6 linked regions of the Homo sapiens genome follow. The protein of the gene in region 6 purifies or fractionates together with the protein of the main gene of each other region. This does not show direct contact. Each region holds a gene or a part of one and is shown on either strand. Other genes may lie near its edges.

Evidence for each region.
Region 1: the proteins of RAB3GAP2 (region 6) and UPF2 fractionate together in Homo sapiens (co-fractionation; one large-scale study listed by BioGRID). This does not show direct contact.
Region 2: the proteins of RAB3GAP2 (region 6) and FAM120A fractionate together in Homo sapiens (co-fractionation; one large-scale study listed by BioGRID). This does not show direct contact.
Region 3: the proteins of RAB3GAP2 (region 6) and PPP4R2 fractionate together in Homo sapiens (co-fractionation; one large-scale study listed by BioGRID). This does not show direct contact.
Region 4: the proteins of RAB3GAP2 (region 6) and RBM26 fractionate together in Homo sapiens (co-fractionation; one large-scale study listed by BioGRID). This does not show direct contact.
Region 5: the proteins of RAB3GAP2 (region 6) and UTP20 fractionate together in Homo sapiens (co-fractionation; one large-scale study listed by BioGRID). This does not show direct contact.

Annotation. Positions count from the first base shown.
Region 1 is NC_000010.11:12,036,310-12,039,809, forward strand, and holds part of UPF2 (regulator of nonsense transcripts 2), read right to left. Parts: intron 1-3,500. UniProt on the Homo sapiens protein: Involved in nonsense-mediated decay (NMD) of mRNAs containing premature stop codons by associating with the nuclear exon junction complex (EJC).
Region 2 is NC_000009.12:93,510,685-93,514,184, reverse strand, and holds part of FAM120A (constitutive coactivator of PPAR-gamma-like protein 1), read right to left. Parts: intron 1-3,500. UniProt on the Homo sapiens protein: Component of the oxidative stress-induced survival signaling. May regulate the activation of SRC family protein kinases. May act as a scaffolding protein enabling SRC family protein kinases to phosphorylate and activate PI3-kinase.
Region 3 is NC_000003.12:73,041,811-73,045,310, reverse strand, and holds part of PPP4R2 (serine/threonine-protein phosphatase 4 regulatory subunit 2), read right to left. Parts: intron 1-3,500. UniProt on the Homo sapiens protein: Regulatory subunit of serine/threonine-protein phosphatase 4 (PP4). May regulate the activity of PPP4C at centrosomal microtubule organizing centers.
Region 4 is NC_000013.11:79,368,256-79,371,755, forward strand, and holds part of RBM26 (RNA-binding protein 26), read right to left. Parts: intron 2,908-3,500; coding exon 2,690-2,907; intron 736-2,689; coding exon 475-735; intron 1-474. UniProt on the Homo sapiens protein: May be involved in the turnover of nuclear polyadenylated (pA+) RNA.
Region 5 is NC_000012.12:101,384,112-101,387,118, reverse strand, and holds the end of UTP20 (small subunit processome component 20 homolog), read right to left. Parts: intron 1,537-3,007; coding exon 1,391-1,536; intron 1,152-1,390; coding exon 996-1,151; 3' UTR 501-995; downstream 1-500. UniProt on the Homo sapiens protein: Part of the small subunit (SSU) processome, first precursor of the small eukaryotic ribosomal subunit.
Region 6 is NC_000001.11:220,265,954-220,269,453, forward strand, and holds part of RAB3GAP2 (rab3 GTPase-activating protein non-catalytic subunit), read right to left. Parts: intron 1,763-3,500; exon of another isoform or gene 226-1,762; intron 1-225. UniProt on the Homo sapiens protein: Regulatory subunit of the Rab3 GTPase-activating (Rab3GAP) complex composed of RAB3GAP1 and RAB3GAP2, which has GTPase-activating protein (GAP) activity towards various Rab3 subfamily members (RAB3A, RAB3B, RAB3C and RAB3D), RAB5A and RAB43, and guanine nucleotide exchange factor (GEF) activity towards RAB18.

The sequences.
Region 1 (3,500 bases), on a different chromosome or scaffold from region 6:
ATAACTCCAGACATTGCTAAATATCCGTCGGAGAAAAAATTATCACCCAAAAACTGCTGCACTAGTCATATGTGGTTACTTAAATGTAAATTAATTAAAATTAAATAAAATTTGAAATTCAGTTCTTCAGTCAGTATCTGTATTTCAAGTGCTCAATTCCACATGTGACTAATGGCTTCCATACACAGCAGGGCAGATACAGAACATTTCCACAGAAAGTTCTATTGGATAGCATTGGCCTATAGTACAGGCTTATAGTTAACTGAAAGTAACTGTGGAACAAAAAACTATACTTTGCAGGAAAATTCTGAATTTTTCTTTTCTAAAAATATATTTCTCTACTCAGAACTAGTTGTCTAATTTCTTTTAGGCATGGTGTTTCACGTTTTAACTCCTAAATTATCTAAGAGTTGTATATAAGAAAATCAAAATTCGGCCAAGCACAGTGGCTCATGCCTATAATCTCAGCACTTTGGAAGGCCAAGGCAGGCAGATTACCTGAAGTCGAGAGTTCGAGACCAACCTGACTAACATGGAGAAATCTCGTCTCTACTAAAAATATAAAATTAGACGGGTATGGTGGCGCATGCCTGTAATCCCAGCTACTCGGGAGGCTGAGGCAGGAGAATGGCTTGAACCCGGGAAGCGGAGGTTGTAATGAGCCAAGATCACGCCATTGGACTCCAGCCTGGGCAACAAGGACAAAACTCCGCCTCAAGAAAAAAAAGAAAATCAAAATTCTATTTTAGAGGTAGAAAATTACCTAAATTTCTTAGTTTTATGTTTTCTTTTTGAAACAGGGTCTCACTTTGTCGCCCAGGCTGGAGTGCAGTGGCACAATCACAGCTCACTGAAGTCTCGACCTCGCAGGCTCAAGTGACCCACCTGCCTCAGCCCCCCAAGTAGCTGGAACAGTAGGTGCTCAACACCACATCCAGGTAATTGTATTTTTAGTAGAGATGGGATTTCCCCATGTTGACTAGGCTGGTCTCGAAATCCTGAGTTTAAGTGATCCATCCACCTGGGCCTCCCAAAGTGCTGGGATTACAGGTATGAGCCACTGTGTTTTTGAGCTTTAGTGTTTTTGTTTTTCTTTTTTTTTTTTTTTTTGAGTCTCGCTCTGTTGCCTAGGCTGGAGTGCAGTGGTGTGATCTCGGCTCACTGCAACCTCCACCTTCCGGGTTTAAGTGAACCTCCCACCTCAGCCTCCCAAGTACCTGAGATTATAAGTGTGTGCCATCACACTCAGCTAATTTTTGTATTTTTAGTAAAGATGGGTTTCACCATATTGGCCAGGCTGCTTGAATTCTTGACCTCAAGTGATCCATCTGACTTGGCCTCCCAAAGTGCAGGATTACAAGCATGAGCCACAGTGCCCGGCCAGCCCTTCGTTTTTTTTTATTAAAAGCAATAGTATCCTTAAATATTTTCAAATATAGGTTTTAAATTACAGCACTTAAAACTAGGTTACCAAAAAAAGCATTTGTAATATTGATATTTTTTAAATACAAAAATACTTTACTTCAGTACTCTATTAAAATGTTAATTTCACAGAAAGCAACCTAGACCAACAGAAACACTTTAATTTTTGCAGGTACATGCCACAGCCTGTACCTTCTCATAACTACCTTTTTCCTTCTCCTTTTTCTTTTACTCCCTCATTGCTCTCCACTCCCTTGTTCTATGCATTTATTTTGACAGTGACACCTAATAGCTGTAGTTAACCCCACTGGTAAAACTCACAACAACAACAAAAAAGCTATTGGGCCTATTTTTAAAATCGTCATTAGGGGCTGGGTGCGGTGGCTCATGCCTGTAATCCCAGCAATTTGGGAGGCCAAGGTGGGCGGATCACCTGAAGTCAGGAGTTTGAGTCCAGCCTGGCCAACATGGTGAAACCCCATCTCTACTGAAAATACAAAAATTAGCTGGGCGTGGTAGCAGGCGCCTGTAATCCCAGCTACTGGGGAGGCTGAGGCAGAACTGCTTGAACCCAGAAAGCAGAGGTTGCAGTGAGCCAAGATCATGCCACTGCACTCCAGCATGGGCGACAGAGTGAGACTCCATCTCACACACACACACACACACACACACACACACACACACACACAAATTACCTTTAATATATGAAAAAGCAGGCTGGGCACCATGGCTCACTCCTGTAATCCCAGCACTTTGGGAAGCCAAGGCAGGCAGATCACTTGAGGTCATGAGTTCAAGACCAGCCTGGCCAACATGTGGAAGCCCCGTCTCTACTAAATATACAAAAATTAAACAGGCATGGTGGAGGGTGCCTGTAATCCCAGCTACTCGGGAGGCTGAAGCAAGAGAATCGCTTGAACCCGGGAGGCGGAGGCTGCAGTAAGCCGAGATAGCGCCACTGCACTCCAGTCTGGGCAAAAGACGGAGACTCCGTCTCAAAAATACAAAAAAAAACAACAACAACAACAAAAGAAAAAGCATTTCTATGCCAAGACAACATTAGCATTTATATTATCTATTTTTTTAATTTAAAAAAAAACTGTTTTAATAAAATAGAGACAAGGTCTCAGTACGTTGCCCTGGCTGGTCTCACACTCCCGGGCTCAAGGGATCCATCCTCCCGCCTCGGCCTTCCAAAGTGCTAGGATTACAGGTATAAGCCACTATACCCGGGCAGCATTTCTATTATCTAGAAGTGTAGTTATTGATTCTTATACATTTTCAATTAAATATCCAACTTTAATGTGAAAACATCACGCCCTTAAAGCAAGCAAACTTTCAAAAAGACTATAATACTAATACACTACTCATGGTACCATACTAAACATTTTACGTATATTATCTCATTTAATACTAAAATCTTTATGAGGTGGGTATTATTTTCCCTATTTTATAAATGAGTAAACTGAGACTTGACCAAGTAACTTGACCAAGGCCTGCACAGCTGGTGACAGAATGGGAATCTGAACCCATTCTCTGAACCAAAGAATCCTAAGAGTACCAAATTGTGAGATGGGAGACATGCTGGTAAATACTGACTATAGCAACCCACAGAATTATGAATCTCAAGAGTAGAAAGAATCCTTCATAATGGTTAAGGAGTTCTCATGTAATGTTTTTAACTTTTAGCAGACTCTGGCTGAAACATATGGGGACAATTTAATATCTAAGGTAATAACATGATCTTATTGAAGGATATTAATCATTAAGTGAAAAAAGTTTATATAGATTTCACATTTTCTGATGTGACGCATCAACAAGTAACATTTCAGGACCACAGGACACTACAAAGAATGGCATCAGAACTTACAATTATGTCTCTCTCTCTCTCTTTTTTTTTTTTTTTTTGAGATGGAGTCTCACTCTGTCGCCAGGCTGGAGTGCAGTGGCACGATCTCGGCTCACCACAACCTCTGCCACCCGGGTTCAAGTCATTCTCCTGCCTCAGCCTCCCGAGTAGCTGGGATTACAGGCATGTGCCACCATGCCCGGCTAATTTTGTATTTTTAGTAGAGATG
Region 2 (3,500 bases), on a different chromosome or scaffold from region 6:
GGCTCTTCCCCCTTCACTCGACACTTCTTACCGCTGCCTTGTTAAGAAGGTGCCTTGCTTCCCCTTCAACTTCTGCCATGATGCTAAGTTTCCTGAGGCCTCCCCAGCCATGCTGAACTGTGAGTCAATTAAACCTCTTTCCTTCATAAATTATCCAGTCTCAGGCAGTTCTTTATAGCAGTATGAAATCAGAGGAAAACACCAGGCAAGGGGAACACAACCCAAGAACCACCACCTCTCACACTGCCTACTGCCAATATAGGTAAGGACAGAAACATTCCCCAAACCTTCACTCTCGTTCTCTGAAAAGCAAATGTCCATGGCTGCATTCACAAGAGGTTCCCTAAGCCAACACTGGGCGTGGTGAGACCAGGAGTGCAAACGCTGTCCTTGGTCCGGCCTCCTGAGAGCCAAGCATGGTCAACAGACGCTGGGAGTGAAGCACAGATCATTGTTGACTCCCCCCAGAGAACGACCAGGAATCTTACAGACTACAATTTATCTGAGGTTCCTGCCTTCCAAGGGCCTTCAGCTCGCAAGCTTTAAACACCATAGCCCTTCGATCCTGGCTCGCATCAAGAAAAAACCTTGGCAGAGCTTCCACCTTTGTACCAAACAAAAACAACTGCAGTATGAGAAGCTGGGAATAATGAGACTGGCATGTGTGTAGTCACAGACACCTCACACTTGCATGCAACACGCACATAGACACACGTGCACACAACACATTCCTAACTGACCGATAAGTCCACAAGTCCGTGCCTCTAAGGGATGTGTGTGCATGATCAAGTGGTCACTCACACACAGGCGTAGATACACACAGAAGTGCACACAAACACACCCCACACGTGCATGCATGGCGCACACACACGCATGGCACAGACAATACAAGGAGCTGTTCCTAAAACAGTATGTTGGCTAGATCTGCACCTCCACGTGTGCGATCAAAGTCGCTATTATTTTAAAAAACTGTTCACAGGTGATTCTGATAGGCAGGTTTGGTCCAAAGAATATTATAAAATCTATTCAAGCTCCAACCATATAATTTAAATCAATGTAAAATGTCTAGTGTATAATATCTTGTGGCTGACCTCACTTACCTAACTTTGGAATAATACAAATCTAAGGCTAGACTCATGTAGCACCCGCATTCAAGTGAAGATGATCATTTTTGTTTTTTGATTTTTGGCCATTTCATCCTAAAACCTTCCTTGAAAGCACAAACTTTCCTTTAAAGCAAACAAACAAACTACATTACAGCATAAAACCAAAGAATTCCAAGGAAAGAATATTTTCTAAAATCACATTCCAATCATTGACCTCAAATAATCCTCTGTGAATCCACAGAGCAAGCCACTATTCTATTAAAGCAGTCCAATAAGTGAATTAATTTGTCTGCATTTTCTGAAGGCTGCAGAAGTGCCTCCTAACCCAGGGTCTCCCTCTGCGGATTCAGGCCTTCGTCTATATCGGTTCTTGTTCTCCATGCCCAAGTGCAGCTGAGCAGAACCACTGTGTGTCCTCTCTACAACAAGAGGCATCTTTCTCAGAAGGGACACGGGGCTCCAGAGTAGAGGTCACACCACCAGTTTCTCACTCTCTTCCTTTCACACTTACTAGAGAGGTGGGCTTTCGGTAAAAAAAAAAATATGCAGACTGAAGACAAGAAGCAAAAGAAGAAAAAAAGGCCAAAAAAGTTTACTATATTTCAAAATATTTCGTAACTTTAAAAATAGTTTTTAAATAGTGAGAAGTTCTTTCAGAATGAAAAGAGACATGCACTGCAATCCCTCGGCTGTATGATCTTGACTTGTTACAGCTCAGTCACCTACTTCCTCAAAGGACTCACTTACGCCTATATGCAGCTGTGTGGCTTTTGCTCTGAATTAAAATACGGTAAAATTCTTTAAAGAAATGGTGTTAAACTGGAACCTCTTCTTAGAACTACAGTCGGCCTTACCCCAGTCCCCATTCCTAGCCCAACCTAACAAATGTTCCTCTATTACTTGGCATATGATCCTGAAATGTTAAACAAAACAAAGAGTAACAAAGTTAAGTCTTAAAAAACAAAAAACAAAACAAAACAAAAAACTGGCCTGGTTCAGTGGCTCATGCCTGTAATCCCACCACTTTGGGAGGCCAAGGCAGGCGAATCACTTGAGGTCAGGAGTTCAAGATCAGCCTGACCAACATGGCGAAAGCCCGTCTCTACTAAAAATAAAAAAATTAGCCAGGCATGGTGGCAGGCGCCTATAACCCCAGCTACTCGGGAGGCAGAGGCTGAAAATCGCTTGAACCCTGGAGGCAGAGGCTGTAATCAGCAGAGATCGTGCCACTGCACTCTGGCCTGGGTGACAGAATGAGACTCCATCTCATAAATAAATAAATAAACAGGCAGACATTGTATGATTTTCAAGTATCACCCAAAAAATATAGCTTTGAAGATGTCGAGTCCAAGATTAAACAAATCAATATAATCCCTACCACCTTTAATTTTCATCGCTTGCAAACACAGACAAGGCAAAACATTCCAACCATTTTAAGCATGTGCAAACAGACATGTTTACTAAATCTCAATAGTCTACAGAAGATAAAAAGTTATAGAAAGGAAACTGTCATGTGACCTGTTCCCGTTACACTACAGATCCAGTGTCCAGAGAGGCAGGGTGGGGCCTTGGAGCACAGTGGGAGGGCGCGGCGTCTGGCCATCCTATAGGGAGAGGAGGCCCCACAGAGCCGGTCAGGCTGGCCAAGCCTGGACTGAGACCAGGTGCAATGTCAGTGCCCAGGGAGGCAAAGGATGGAGGAGCAACTCCCAAGAGCTAAGAGCCTGGGAGCAGCTGATGCTGGCCCAAAGCCTGCGGTGTTGGCCAGACCCCAAGGGAAGAGCCAGAGGCCGGCGCCCAGAAGAGGAGGCCTGGTGACAGAAGGAGGCAAAACCTGAGGCATGATCAGCTTGAAGAAGGCTAAGTACAAGGCCCATGAGAAGTAAGATTATGAACTCAGTGAACAGGCACATCCTGCGTGGCACGTGAAAGAATTCGGAACAGCGGGAAAAATTAAACCACGGAAGCAAATTTCAAGTCAACAGAAACAAGAACTTTCTAAGAATGAGAGCAGTTCAACAATGAAAAGGGTTGCTTTACTGACTGCTGGACTGCTCATACAAGAACATTCTACAGCAGGGAGCTGGGCTGAACTTCTATAAACATTCCTCACTCCCCAAATCCTTTCCATCCCTGAATGTGGATAGTGAGAGGGTAGACATCACGAGATACGGCATCATTCGAATCTACCCAGTGCCCCAGTCTCAAGTAGCAAGTTTTATCTAAATGTATTCAGTTCCTGGGTTTAATTAATCAGTTTGAACAGAATACTTGTACTGACTGAGCAAAGTTCAAGAAGGCAGAATAGGAACATTACATCTCATCAAGGCTGGTTACGGTGGCTCATGACTACAATCCCGACACTGGGGGCTGAGGCAGTTCAGACCAGGCCAG
Region 3 (3,500 bases), on a different chromosome or scaffold from region 6:
TTATACGAGGCCAGGTGTGGTGGCTCACGCCTGTAATCCCAGCACTTTGGGAAGCCGAGACAGGAAGATCACTTGGGCCCAGGAGTTGGAAGCCAGCCTGGGCAAACAGCAATACTCCGTCTCTACAAAATAATTAATTACTAATTAATTTAAATTAGGCATGGTGGTATGCACCTGTAGTCCCAGCTACTCAAGAGGCCGAGGCAACAGGATTGCTTGAGCCCAGGAGGTAGAGGCTGCAGTAAGCCAAGATCACACCACTGGAATCCAGCCTGAGCGACAGAGCAAGACCCTGTCTCTTAAAGATACTGTGTGATACCAAAAGCACAAGCAACAAAATTGATAAATTGAATTACATCAAAATTTAAAATTTTGTGCATCAAAGGACACTATCAACAGAGCAGAAAGTCAAATCGTGAAATGGGAGAAAATATTTGCAAATCTTTTATCTGATAAGGGGTTAATATCCAGATTATATAAAGAACACCTACAACTTAACAAAAAAGATGACCCAATTTAAAAATGGGCAAAGTACTTAAATACGCACTTCTCCAAAGAAGATATACAAATAGCAAACACACAAGATGCTTAACACCATTAATCTTGGGGAAATGTAAATCCAAATCACAATACCACTTTACACCCATTAGGGTTGGCTATTATCTAAAAAACAAGTGAACAAGTATTGGCTGGCCAAGGATGTAGAGAAACTGAAACTTTCCTTTCTGAGACAGTGTCACTCCGTTGCCAGGGCTGGAGAGTGGTGGTGCAACCTCGGCTCACTGCAACCTCTGCCTCCTGGGTTCAAGCAATTCTCCTGCTTCAGCCTCCCAAGTAGCTAGGATTACAGGTGCCTACCACTACGTCCAGCTAACTTTTTGTATTTTTAGTAGAGACGGGGTTTCACCATGTTGGCCAGGCTGGTCTCGAACTCCTGACCTCGTGATCAGCCCACCTCAGCCTCCCAAAGTGCGTGAGCCACTGCCCCCAGCCAAGAAACCAAAACTCTTGTGCATTGCTGGTAGGAACAATGCAGTCACTGTGGAAAGCAGTTTGGTTGCTCCAAAAACAACAACAACAACAACAACAAAAATTATGAAACCACCCTATGATTCAGGAATCCCATTTCTCCATAGATCCCCAAAAGGTGAAAACAACCCAAATGTGCCAACAGCACATGAATGGATAAGCAAAATGTGAGAGATAAACACACACACACACACGAATATTATCCAGTCTTTAATCTGAAAGAAATTCTGACATGGATTAAGCTTGATGGCATTATGCAAAGTGAAATAAGCCAGACACAAAAAGAACGACTATTGTATGATTCCACTTATATGAGCTATCAAGAATAGTCAATTTAGAGTCGTCTGGAACTGTGGGGAGGAAGGTGAAGGGACTTATTCTTTAATGTGTACAATGTTTCAAGTTTGTGTAAATGAAAAGTTCTGCAGATGGATGATAGTGATGGTAACATACATCGTGAGTGTACTTACTGGCAATAAATTGTACACTTCAAATAGTTAAAATGGTAAGGTTTACATTAGGTATATTTCAATAGGTATTTCCCCACAAAGAAGATACACAAATGGCCAATAAGCATATGAAAAGATGCTCAGCATTATTATCTATTAGAGAAATGCAAATCAAAACCACCCATTTCACACCCACTAGGGTGGCTATAATCAAAAAGATGAATAATGAACGAGTGCTGGGTTGATGTGGGGAAACTGGTAATGTCATACATTACTGGTGGGAAAGTAAAATGGTGTAGTTGCTTTGGAAAGTACTTGGGCAGTTCCTCAGAAAGGTAAATGCAGATTTGTAATCCAACAATTCCATTCTATTAAATGAGTGAATTATGTATTTTAAAAGTATGCTATTACTTTTAAAAATGGTGAGGATAATTAAAAGCTATTTGCATGATTAGTTTTTTCCACCTTTCCCTATCCTATTTTAGAAAGGGGAATTTGAGGTTTAACAAGCAGAATTTTTAATTTTTAATTTCACAGAATTTTTGATATGCCTAATATTAATCCTTATTAATGTACAATTGCTTTTGGTTCCTAAAATTTATCTTTAAATTTTATGAGACTCTCCACATGCACTTCATACTTAAACATACCAGGGCAAGTTATACTGAAATAGGACGCTTATACTTTTCATTTCTTAAATTAATAATTTTTTGTGCTTTTAATAATCACCAATTCATAGCGTGAGTTCAGATTTCCATATGCACAGAGTCTTGTGGTGTGTTTTAATCTCATCTTTCCATTAACCATCTGACATGACATGTTTGCGGTCCAAAAAAAGCACATTAATGGGAACAGCCAGACAAGAGGTATGGGATCCCAGGTAATGGAAATTCTGAAGAGATTCAAAGACTCTATGGCACTAACTCATGAGACAGAAATTAAGCCCCATAAATTGACATGAATTATGAACACACTGTAGTCTTAACTTTCAAATAAATCAAGCAGTTACTCTAAATTAGATCAATACGATGCAATTCAAGTGATACTATTCCACATATATATATGGGGAGGGCATTCATAAAATGTGAAAGATACAGCTTTTTGATGGAGGACAACTATTTGATAAAAACAAAAACAGAAAATGCTTCCCTAAAAGTTATATAATTCAGGGGCCAGGCGCGGTGGCTCACGGATGTAATCCCAGCACTTTGGGAGGCCGAGGCGGGCTTATCACAAGGTCAAGAGACCAAGACCATCCTGGCCAACATGGTGAAATCCTGTCTCTACTAAAAATACAAAAATTAGCTGGGTGTGGTGGCACAAACCTGTATTCCCAGCTACTCGGGAGGCTGAGACAGGAGAATTGTTTGAACCCAGGAGGCGGAGGTTGCAGTGAGCCAAGATTGCAGCACCGCACTCCAGCCTGGGTGACACAGCGAGACTCCATCTCAAAAAAAAAAAAAAAAAAAAAGAAATTATATTCAGGCACAAAAAACAGGCCATGCGCAAATCAACTAAAAACTTGGCAACAAAAACAATTTCTTAGGAATGTACACTCACTGGATGAGTAGAAATGAGAACAAAAAAACCCTTGGCTTTCAATATGAAAATCAAATTATTCTAAAAAGATGCTCATAAGACATAAACACATTTTCAACTTCAGAACAAATTTCTCCACATAAAATCCCCTCCAATAAAATACATACTCAAAATTTAAATCTACTTTACTGAAATTAACTCAATAATGTACTGAAATTAATCACCATTAACTAAGTAGCTTCACCTCCCTTCACTTCCTTTTTCTTCTCCCCTTCCATTTTCCCATTTTTGCAGTTTCTCCTGTAGGAAAGTACAATTCATATCTCTAATAAATATATCCTGGTGCTAGATTTTACATTGACCTTTTTTCTCCATAGGAACTCACAAGTTCATATTCAAACATGTTTCTCTCACAATTCTCTAAAGGCTAAAGGTATTTTCCAGAGGCTTAAGGACAGAAAATCCATCTTTTCTTTTCCCAAG
Region 4 (3,500 bases), on a different chromosome or scaffold from region 6:
GACCTCATGATCCACCCACCTCAACCTCCTAAAGTGCTGGGATTACAGGCGTGAGCCGCTGCGCCCAGCCAAAAGTCTTTAATTCTTTAATAAAATTCTTACAAAGGTGACATTTACATTTCTAGATACATTTCTATTTACAGTCCAATAATCACTCATTCTAAAGAAATGAGTTTTGTCAATAATGTTTCAGTAGCAGATTCCCTGATAAAAACTCAGTAGATATTTACTCATTTGGTAAACTCCCACAATTTATTAAGACTTACTTGCAAATAAATACTACCTTTAAATTGATAATCAAATTAGTGGCAACTAATAAATGTTTCAATCATATTGAGGAATTCAAAAAGTGACTAAGGCTAATTTCCCACTTTTCAGAGGTAAGTCTTTGAATAACTATGTACAACATAAACACAGAATTTAGGCAGCTGGAAATATTAATTAAATACTTTATCAAACAGCTGAAAGACTTACCATCATAGTCTCTACACCGTTTCTTTGGCATGGGTGGTCTTACGTAAGAGTTATGGTCCACTTGGTCTTCATGAAATTCAGACCAACTTTCGGTAGTGTTGTTTCCATGATGAGTAGGAGCAATTACTGTAATAGTGCTGCTCAAAGTAGGTACAGGGTAGTGGCCAGATGAAATACTAGGTACCGAAGAGACTGGAGTATAATTATTTTCTAATGGATCTGTTCTATCCAGGTCATATTTAGGTTTTACCAGATCCCTTTCTGCAACGAAAGATAAATGACATATAAAACTACACTGTATTAAAAAAAAAAAAGTCCCAGATCTAAGAAATAGTGATATTTTTATAAACATAGAAAAAAAATTTTAAATTTTGCATAATAATCATTTTCTTTTAAAAAATATTCAATTAATATACAATGTTAAAAGGTAAGCGATTTCTTTTTAATATAACCCAAACTACAAAACCAGGTAATGCTGCCATATTTAATGTTTTTCCTTAGAGTTTTGTTTATAGAAAAAAGGAATTTTATATTTTCTTCATCACAATCTTGGTATGCATAATTACAGACCACAAAACAAAACATGCAATAAAGTATGGTTATTTTTCCTGTGATGAACATTTTGTAGTCATCCATTTAAAGTTACTACAATGGCTGTTATATTAAGATAAGAACGGATGACCCAGAAAGAGTTCATATTAAACATGCACAAAGAAATTAACTAGACTATACATATGGTCCTCAGGAAACAGAAAAGAAATTAAAGAGATTAGTTAAGTGAAGTAACATTCCATGAAGCCTTGTATACCTAGATCACAGCAGGGGAAAATTTCTAAGAAAAGAGTAACAGAATACAGGGCTTATACAAAGGCCATAAATAGTATTAAGAGTAGCAAAAAAAGTTTGAGAAAAGGTGCTTTACTGAAAAGTGTTTTAGGTGTTTTACGACAACATCTTACTTTCAATAACATGTACTAGAAGAAAATTATACATGTTGGGAATGACACGCTCTTGCAAAAATATATATCTGAAATAAAACTTTTTAAACTTTTAAAAATAGTTTTGAAGTATAACTGATATATAATAAACTGAACATATTTAAACTGTATAAGTTTTAATCAAGATATAACACCTCTGAAACCAATACCACAAATAAATGATGTACATATTCATCACTTCCAAAAGAATCCTCATGCCCCTTTGTAATCTGTAATCTATCATCCCTCCTTTACTCCATTTCAGGCAACGACTGGCTTTGCTCTCTGTCATCACAGATTAGTTTGCATTTTTAAAAACTAGTCTGGGCACAGTGGCTCAGGCCTATAATCCCAGCACTTTGGGAGGCTGAGGCGGGTGGATCACCTGAGGTCAGGAATTCGAGACCAGTCTGGCCAACCTGGTGAAACCCCCAACGTGACTCTACCAAAAATACAAAAATTAGCCGAGCATGGTGGCACTTGCCTGTAATCCCAGCTACTTGGGAGGCTGAGGCATGATCATCGCTTGAACTCAGGAGGCGGAGGTTGCAATGAGCTGAAACAGCACCACTGCACTCCAGCCTGGGCGACAGAGCAATACTCTGTCACAAAAACAAAGATTAAGAAAAAAAATTTTTTAACATACATATGTATTGTCCTGCTTCTTTCACTCAGCATAATTATACTGAGATTCATCCATTTTGTTGCATGTATCAATAGTTCTTTTCTTTTTATCCATGTTATGGTATGGATATACCACAACATGTTTATACATTCACCTCTTGATGGACATTTAGGCTGTTTCTAGATCTGGCTCTTACAAATAAGTCTGCTATGAACCTTTGTGAACAAACACCTGTGTGGACATACACTTTCATTTCTTCCAGGTAAACAGTAAGAAGTAGAATAGCGGACCCATATGCTAAGTGTAGTTTTAATATTTTTACATACTGCCAAAATGTTTTCCAAAGAGTTTCAGCTTATCTACTTTCTCACCAACATGGAATAGAATCAGTCTGTATCATCGTGGCTATCCTGTTGAATGTGTAGTGGTAACTGTGATTTTAATTTGCAAGGAATAAAACTTTTAAAGGAATTTTTAAAAAGCATTCTCTTGGACCACAGAATACATCATAATAGAAAAAAATGAAGACAACACTGACAAAATGTTAAGCAATTTTTAAAAACATTTAAACATGGAGTTTTTCATAAAAAGATAACCAAAATATATTATTTACCCCTGCTTCGTGTTCTGCTTCTGCTTCTAGTCCTGCTTCTATCTCTGTCCCTCTCACGAAGCCTCTCTTTACTCCAACTTCGACTTCGACTCCTGCTATAACTGCGACTCCGCCCTCGTCTTCTATTGTACCGGTCTCTGTATGAATCTCTTCGAGGAGGGTTTCGATCATAATCTCTTTTGCGAGAACGATCATCTTTTTTCCTCTCATCACGGCTTCTAAAGAAATATGTGATCACTTTAATACAAATAATTTTTAAGTGACACAGGAAAAAGCTAATTAAATGCAAAAGTTACATTTAATTCTTGTAACTTAACTTTCTATCCTACCATCAGACAACTGAAAAAACTGAGCTTAATATTCAGTACTTTAAATCCCTTTTAAATGAAAAACAATCTTTTTAAAGCCTTAACCCTTAGTCTTATTACACATTGGCAACTATACAATTAGGCATCTGTAGATAAAGGCATCTGTATATAAGACTTAGAGTACATATAGAACATACTATCCCGTACATATAATCTCACTTACAGACATGTATCACATGCATTGTATTCTAAGTGCTTTTGAAGCCTGAATGAGAAAAACAATTTAATCACACTAAATGGAAACAGCAGGCAAAAAAAAAACACCCACACATTAAGATTCTACTGGAATCTGAAGTTAGGAATAAAAAGATAAGCAGCTAATATATGTCAAGCACTGTTCTAAACTCACTCCCAAGATCTACAAATCTGACCTAGATTTTCATGGTAGAAACGGACCTAGTTATATTTTCCTAGACCAATAAAAGAGTAGATATTACTTGCCT
Region 5 (3,007 bases), on a different chromosome or scaffold from region 6:
CTAAGCAGAAGTTCTTAATGAAGTAGGATTTATTACACGTTCTCTCTATAGATAGTTTTTGTGTCTTACTTTTGATATCCAATAGGGCAAGCCCCTCATCCTGTTCTACTTTTGTGAGAGTGTCATGGTTATTCTTGGCTTAATATCATCTTCCATATACATTTTAGAATTAGCTTGTTGGGTTAACGTGAAGAACTCTTGGGATTTTGCTCAGATACACATTTAACCAAAGGATCAACTTGGGAAAAAGAAGTAGCGTTTTATGATCCTGAATCTTCCTAGCCAAGAACATGGTTATAGTTCCGTTTGTGCAGATCTTTCTTACTGCCTTTTCCTAAAATTTTAGCAAGTACTATAGAGCAGTATTTGCAAATCTTTTGTTTGATTAATTGCTAACTTCTACATTTTTTCTTGCTATTTAAAAATGTATCCTTTTATTTACAAATTATATTTTAAACTCTGACTAGTGTCACATGCTTTTTAAACAGTGAAGACCCAGCAGTAGTATAGTGTTTTATTTATTTAAAAAATATGAGCATGATTACATTAAACTATATATTATACAATCTATCCAAAGTTTAACTAACTTAAATAATAAAACCTGGTTGAGCAGGGTGGCTCACACCTGTAATCCCAGCACTTTGGGAGGCCGAGGCAGGCGGATCAGTTGAGCCCAGGTGTTCGAGACCAGCCTGGCCAACATGGCGAAATCCTGTTTCTACAAAAAATACAAAATACAAAAAATTTGCCGGGCATAGTGTTGTGTGCCTAGGAGGCACAACTACTTGGGAGGCTGAGGTGAGAGGATCACTTGAACCCAGGTTGAGGCTGCAGTGAGCTGTGATGTCGTCACTGCACTCCACCTTGGGTGACAGAGTGAGACCTTGTCTCAAAAAAAAAAAAAAACGCCTCCCCCCTACCCCAGACAACCTACTGTAATTTCAGACTAGCAGAATATTCCAGAAAGTTCATGCTTGTATCAGCACAGGGAGACATTACTCCACCATTGCTAAATCTTTCAGGCTATGGCTTTTTTGTCTCTTGGCCTTATATCCTGGACGCAGGAACTCTATCTTTCTCTTCTTTGCTTCACTTTTATTTTTGTGTTTCTTCATTTTTTTCTTGGCAGCAATATCAGGATTAGTTACAAACTGGAAAAGAGAATAGAAATTTTATATTACTTTTAAAGTAAATGTTAAACCAATAAGAATCAAATACAGAAATAAATGTAAAAAACACATGCTCATTAAAGAAAATCTGAAGTCCCAGCTATAAAGTCCCCAACCGCTCAAACCCTTGATCCTCCCTAAGTGTAAGTGTGACACAAACATGCACACTTAGTAGTTATCAAGTCCAGTGAACATGCCATATTTTCAAAGAGCAAACTTACCTCCAGGGCCTTCCTCTTTTTCCGGAGTGCCCTTTTCTCATTAGCCTGTTTCTGTACAGAGGCAAAGGCTAATGAGAAGCTCTCAAGCCCAACCAGCTTTTTGAGTAATTCTATGATTTCCTGGGATAGATTCTTCAGCAAAGGATCTAATCACACACAAAGAGTAATGATCAGAGACAGGTAGGAAAGGACACATTTGAACATCAACAAAATCAACAATATGTACAACATTTATATCCAGCTACTGATCTGGCAAGAAACCCCAAATAAAACAAAACAAAATTTCAACTCTTGCAGCATTATCACTGTTACTTCAACATTAAACACTGATATAAAACTAGCCTCTATGTTCCTGGGATGGGGAAACCAGCAATGCTAGACATAGCACTCCAGCCACCACCTCACCCAGGATGCAATAAGAAATCAGAGAACATGAGGCCCACTTCCCAGCGGAAACCTGGCCCTGAAGACATTAAAGTAACTTGGGACCTTGACAGAAACGTTTTGAATTACCTCTGTTTACCTGTTGAGCTCTTGCAGATGGGGGGAAAAGTAAGAGATTCCCTCTCTAATCCATGATGGGTCACAGAGGCTTAGCTCTGCCCACAGTAACTTTTTTTTTTTTTTTTTTGGCGGGGGAGTGTCAAAAGCCTCCTTTGTGAAGTTGACAAAAAAGCCATTTCTCCCACCCTTCTCTGCCACTCACCCCTATATACAAATAACCCCCAATTTCAATTTCACAGGAGCTCAGGACATCTGTTCTAGATCACAAGCTTCTTGAAAACTTTCCTGCTGTTGAATCCCTAGTGCCTGGCAGATATTAGATGCTCATTAAATGTTGACTGGGTTGAACCAAAGCACACCTGAACCTGCTTTTGTCAGCAGCCTCAACCTTTACCATTGCTTTTTCCTTTGTAAGAGTGAGGAAACTTTCTCCCAAGGTTGTAGGACTGTAAAAGCTCTTGCTTTGACATTTGCTTCATTTGTTTTATTTTCAAACTCTGAACATTCACTTTACCTCCTTTCCTTCCTGCCCCCAGTTCCCTCTTTACCTGTTATTACCAACAATTAGAATAAGTGAGGGAAATGTATCAGGCAAGGAAAAAGAAGAAATGTTAAAATGATATTTTAAAACTATTTCATATAAAAATGATAATACTTATATTTTTGCCATATAATCTTTCTTTTGAGACAGTATCTCACTCTGTTGCCCAAGCAGGAGTGCAGTGGTGCAATCACGGCTCACTGAAGCCTCGACCTCACAGCCTCAAGAGATCCCCCCACCTCAGCCTCCTAAGTAGCTGCAATTATAGTTGTGCACCACCACACCCAGCTAATTTTTGTATCTTTTGTAGAGATGGGGTTTTGCCATGTTGCCCAGGCTGGTCTTGAACTTCTGGGCTCAAGTGATCCTCCCAACTTGGCTTCCCAAAGTGTGGGATTACAGGCGTGAGCCACTACGCCCAGCCTATAATTTTTAAGATGAGAATGTAATGACATTTTATTATTCATTATTATTCATTGTGCTATGAGGTTTAAAACTACCCTGAACCATAGTTTTCTTTGACTATTTAATCTATGTTGAGGATAAAGCATCATCTTTTATGTGAGAAACAT
Region 6 (3,500 bases):
GCCACAAAGCAGTAAGACCAGACTTCATGTCTTAAGTAGATAGTATTTACTTTATAAAAACAAAATTTAACAGTTGTCATTAATGTAAACATTGGGAAAGGGTAGGGTTCAGCATCTTTTAAAGCTACAGAGGACAGTCTTCTTTTGTAATTAAATATACAAAGTAACATAAAGTCATACTTTGATAATTCAAATATAGAAGAGAGTGGTATCACTATATCTCTAGCAGCTGTCCACAGTAAAATAAAAGTACTTTTTTTTCTGTACAAATATCTTTATTTTCCTACTTAAAAAGAATCACGTACTCAGTCCAACAGCTTTACCAGGCTTGGCCAACCCAATAAGTTACACACTCACTCAGGTACTTGGAAGGTTATTGGACAGCTCCTTAACCGATCGAGTCAGCACAAAGTGGTCACTTTCCCCATAGCCAGACTCTGGATTTGCCTCCTGGGAGGACACCATGCCTGGCACAGACTGATGGGGTGGCTGCAGTCGAACCTTGCCTCCAGATTATGAACCAGTATAAGTAGCACAATTCTCGTGGCTACTTTCACTTCAGAGTGTCATGTTTATTGATGTGGAGCTTTCTGAGTAGGGAGGTTAAGGCACACCTGCTCAGTAAAACAAATATTTCTTTTAGTGTTCTAGATTGAGGGCAGCAGTCAATGGTAAAATAAATTTTGGTAGCATGTTCCTGAGAGGTTATACAGCAGCCCTGGCTCAAGGATTTCTCCCCCTGCACGATTCCTAAGAATACTTGCTAGTTGATTCTTTGTTTTGGCAATTTGATGGTTTTGATGAATTTGCTGTGATCCAGGGGTATTCAAGTACTTCTCTGAGCATTGGCCTCTGGCTGGGAACATGCTTCAACAGTCTTGAAATGAGGTCCCTGGCTCCCTCTGTTACAAAGTCAGGGAATGTGAATTCTCAACCCGTGATATTCTTTTGTAGGTCTCTTGGTATGTATTTGCCTCAAAAGGAGGCTTCCCAACTAAAAATTCACAGCAAAGAACTCCAAGGCTCCAGAGATCCACCTTCTCATCATGCATCCGACCTTCAATCATTTCGGGGGGCAGGTAGTCCAGGGTGCCACAGAGAGTGGTCCTCCTGGAAGATGGAGCATGTTCTGACCACCCAAAATTTGCAATTTCAAGCTCTCCAGCTGATCCAAGAAGTAAGTTCTCTGGCTTAATGTCTCTATGAATAACTGTTTTTGAATGACAGTAAGACAGGGCACTTGCCAATTCTGTGATATAAGTAGCAGTTCTCTGCTCATCAAACTTTGAAAGTTTCTGAAGTTCTGTATTGACTGTTTCAAGTGGTGTATATTCCAGAATTAGGTAGACTCTGGTGGCATCATGGAAATAACCATACAGTCTGATTATATTAGGATGTTGGAGGTGGGACTGTATTTCTACTTCTCTTCTGAGTTGATGCTCCACTCCTGCTTTCTCCAGCTGAGCTTTAAATAACACCCTAAGAGCCAGAATAAACTTGCTTTGTTTTTCTCTTGCCAAATAAACATTACCAAACTTTCCTTTACCCGGAGGGCGACCAATTTCAAGGTCTTCCAAAGCCCATTGCCTCTTTTTGATTCTTCATTTTTCTGTTTTGATGCCAGTTCCTCCTCAGGATTATTTTCAGGTGCCGACAGCGGGGACTGCTTGCTGTTTTGGGTGTTATTCAGTGGCCTGGAGGCAGGATGAGGTACACTGGTTGCCTGCAATTGCTTCTGCTTCTGATTCTGAACTGGCTTGTGACTGGAGACAAGCTTTTGTGCTTGCAAAGGAACACGCTGCGAAGAATTTGAAGGACACAAGACCCACTGAGCCTGGCCACTATTTGCAGGTAATGGATTCTGACAAGGAAATTGCTGAGTCACGAGAACATGTTCTGGACCTCCAACTGGAGTTTTAGCCTCAACAGGCCCTGAAATGCAGTTTTCTTCAGATTGGTCCGTGATGCCTATGACCCAAGGACCTGAGTCTTCCAAGAGCTCAGCCCAATAAAAGCACTTTTAAACCAACTGATACACCTCTATAATTCACAAGTAATTGAGGTGTTTTATGTTTTTACATATCCTCTAGAGATGAGCTAGGTTAAGAAATTACAACTATATCAGCTAAAAAAATTTAAGATGATCTCATGATTTCTGCTTCCCAATAAACATTTATAACATTAATAAATAAAGTGAAGAAAAGCAAAGGCAAATACCATCAGCAGTTTAAGTCAGGTCCTATTTACCTGCTCTGCTAATGTCATTTTTTCTCTGTAAAATTTCACTGTACAAAAGTTTACGTTCAAAACTCTTTATATTACGGCTTGGCCTAGACTATCTTAAAAGTGCTCAGAACACTTACATTAGCCTATAGTTGGGCAAAATCTTCTAACACAAAGTCTATTTTATCATGAAGGGTTGAAAATATCTCATGTAATTTCTTGAATACAGTACTTCTTGAATACCGTAGAGTACAGTCTCTCATATTTGCTGCTGCTACCCACCATCACAAAAGAGTATCTTACCCATTGTATCACTAGCTCTGGAAAAGATCAAAGTGCAAAATTTGAAGTATGGTTTCTACAAAGTACACATTGCTTTCACATTACTGTAAAGCTAAAAAATTGGAAGCCAAACCATCATAAGTCTGAGATCATCTGTACAGGTTTTACAAAGGGGCTCACTGGTGAAGAGGTCCATTCTGTTCATTTTCTACATGAACTGATCATAGCCACAATAATATCAACATACATAAACTCAAGAATTTGATTTAGAAGAGAAATACATTAAACCATATTTATAAATCTATAGGTATAGTGCAAATTAATCTAGATGTTTGGGGTGTATTTATATCCCCAACTGCCTATGTAACTTGGACAAGTATTCAATCTGTATGTACCTGAGTTTTAGCACCTATAACTGTGCCATACTATATTATAGGCATTAGCCACTTTGGCTACTTAAATTTAAATTAATTAAAATTAACTTGAATTTTAAAAATTCAGTTCCTCAGTTGCACTGGCCACATTTCACAGGCTCAATAACCACATGTGCCTAGAGGTTACCATACTGGACAGTAGAAATATAATGATGAAAATAAACAGGATGATATGATTGAGAACAACAAGTAGGAACAAGGGGGTTGTATTGACTACTTTAGATCTAGATCAGGTGGTCAGAAAAGGCTGCCCTGAGTTGACATTTGAGCTGAGACTTGAATGACAAGATGCAACTAGCATGCAAAGATCTGCAAAAAGCATCCAAGGCATAGACAACAGTGAGGGCAAAAACCTTAGCCACAAATGTGGTTGGCTGGTTTAACAACAAAAAAGAGCGTCTGAAGCATAAGAAATAAGGGGAGAGGTGTATAAGGTCCAAGAAATGGCAGGAAGCAGAGTCTCAAGGGCCTTATACACCATTTAAGAACTTTGGATTTTACGTTAAGTGCAATCAAAAACCATTGAGTGTTATTAAAAGGGCAATGTTAGGCTGGGTGTGG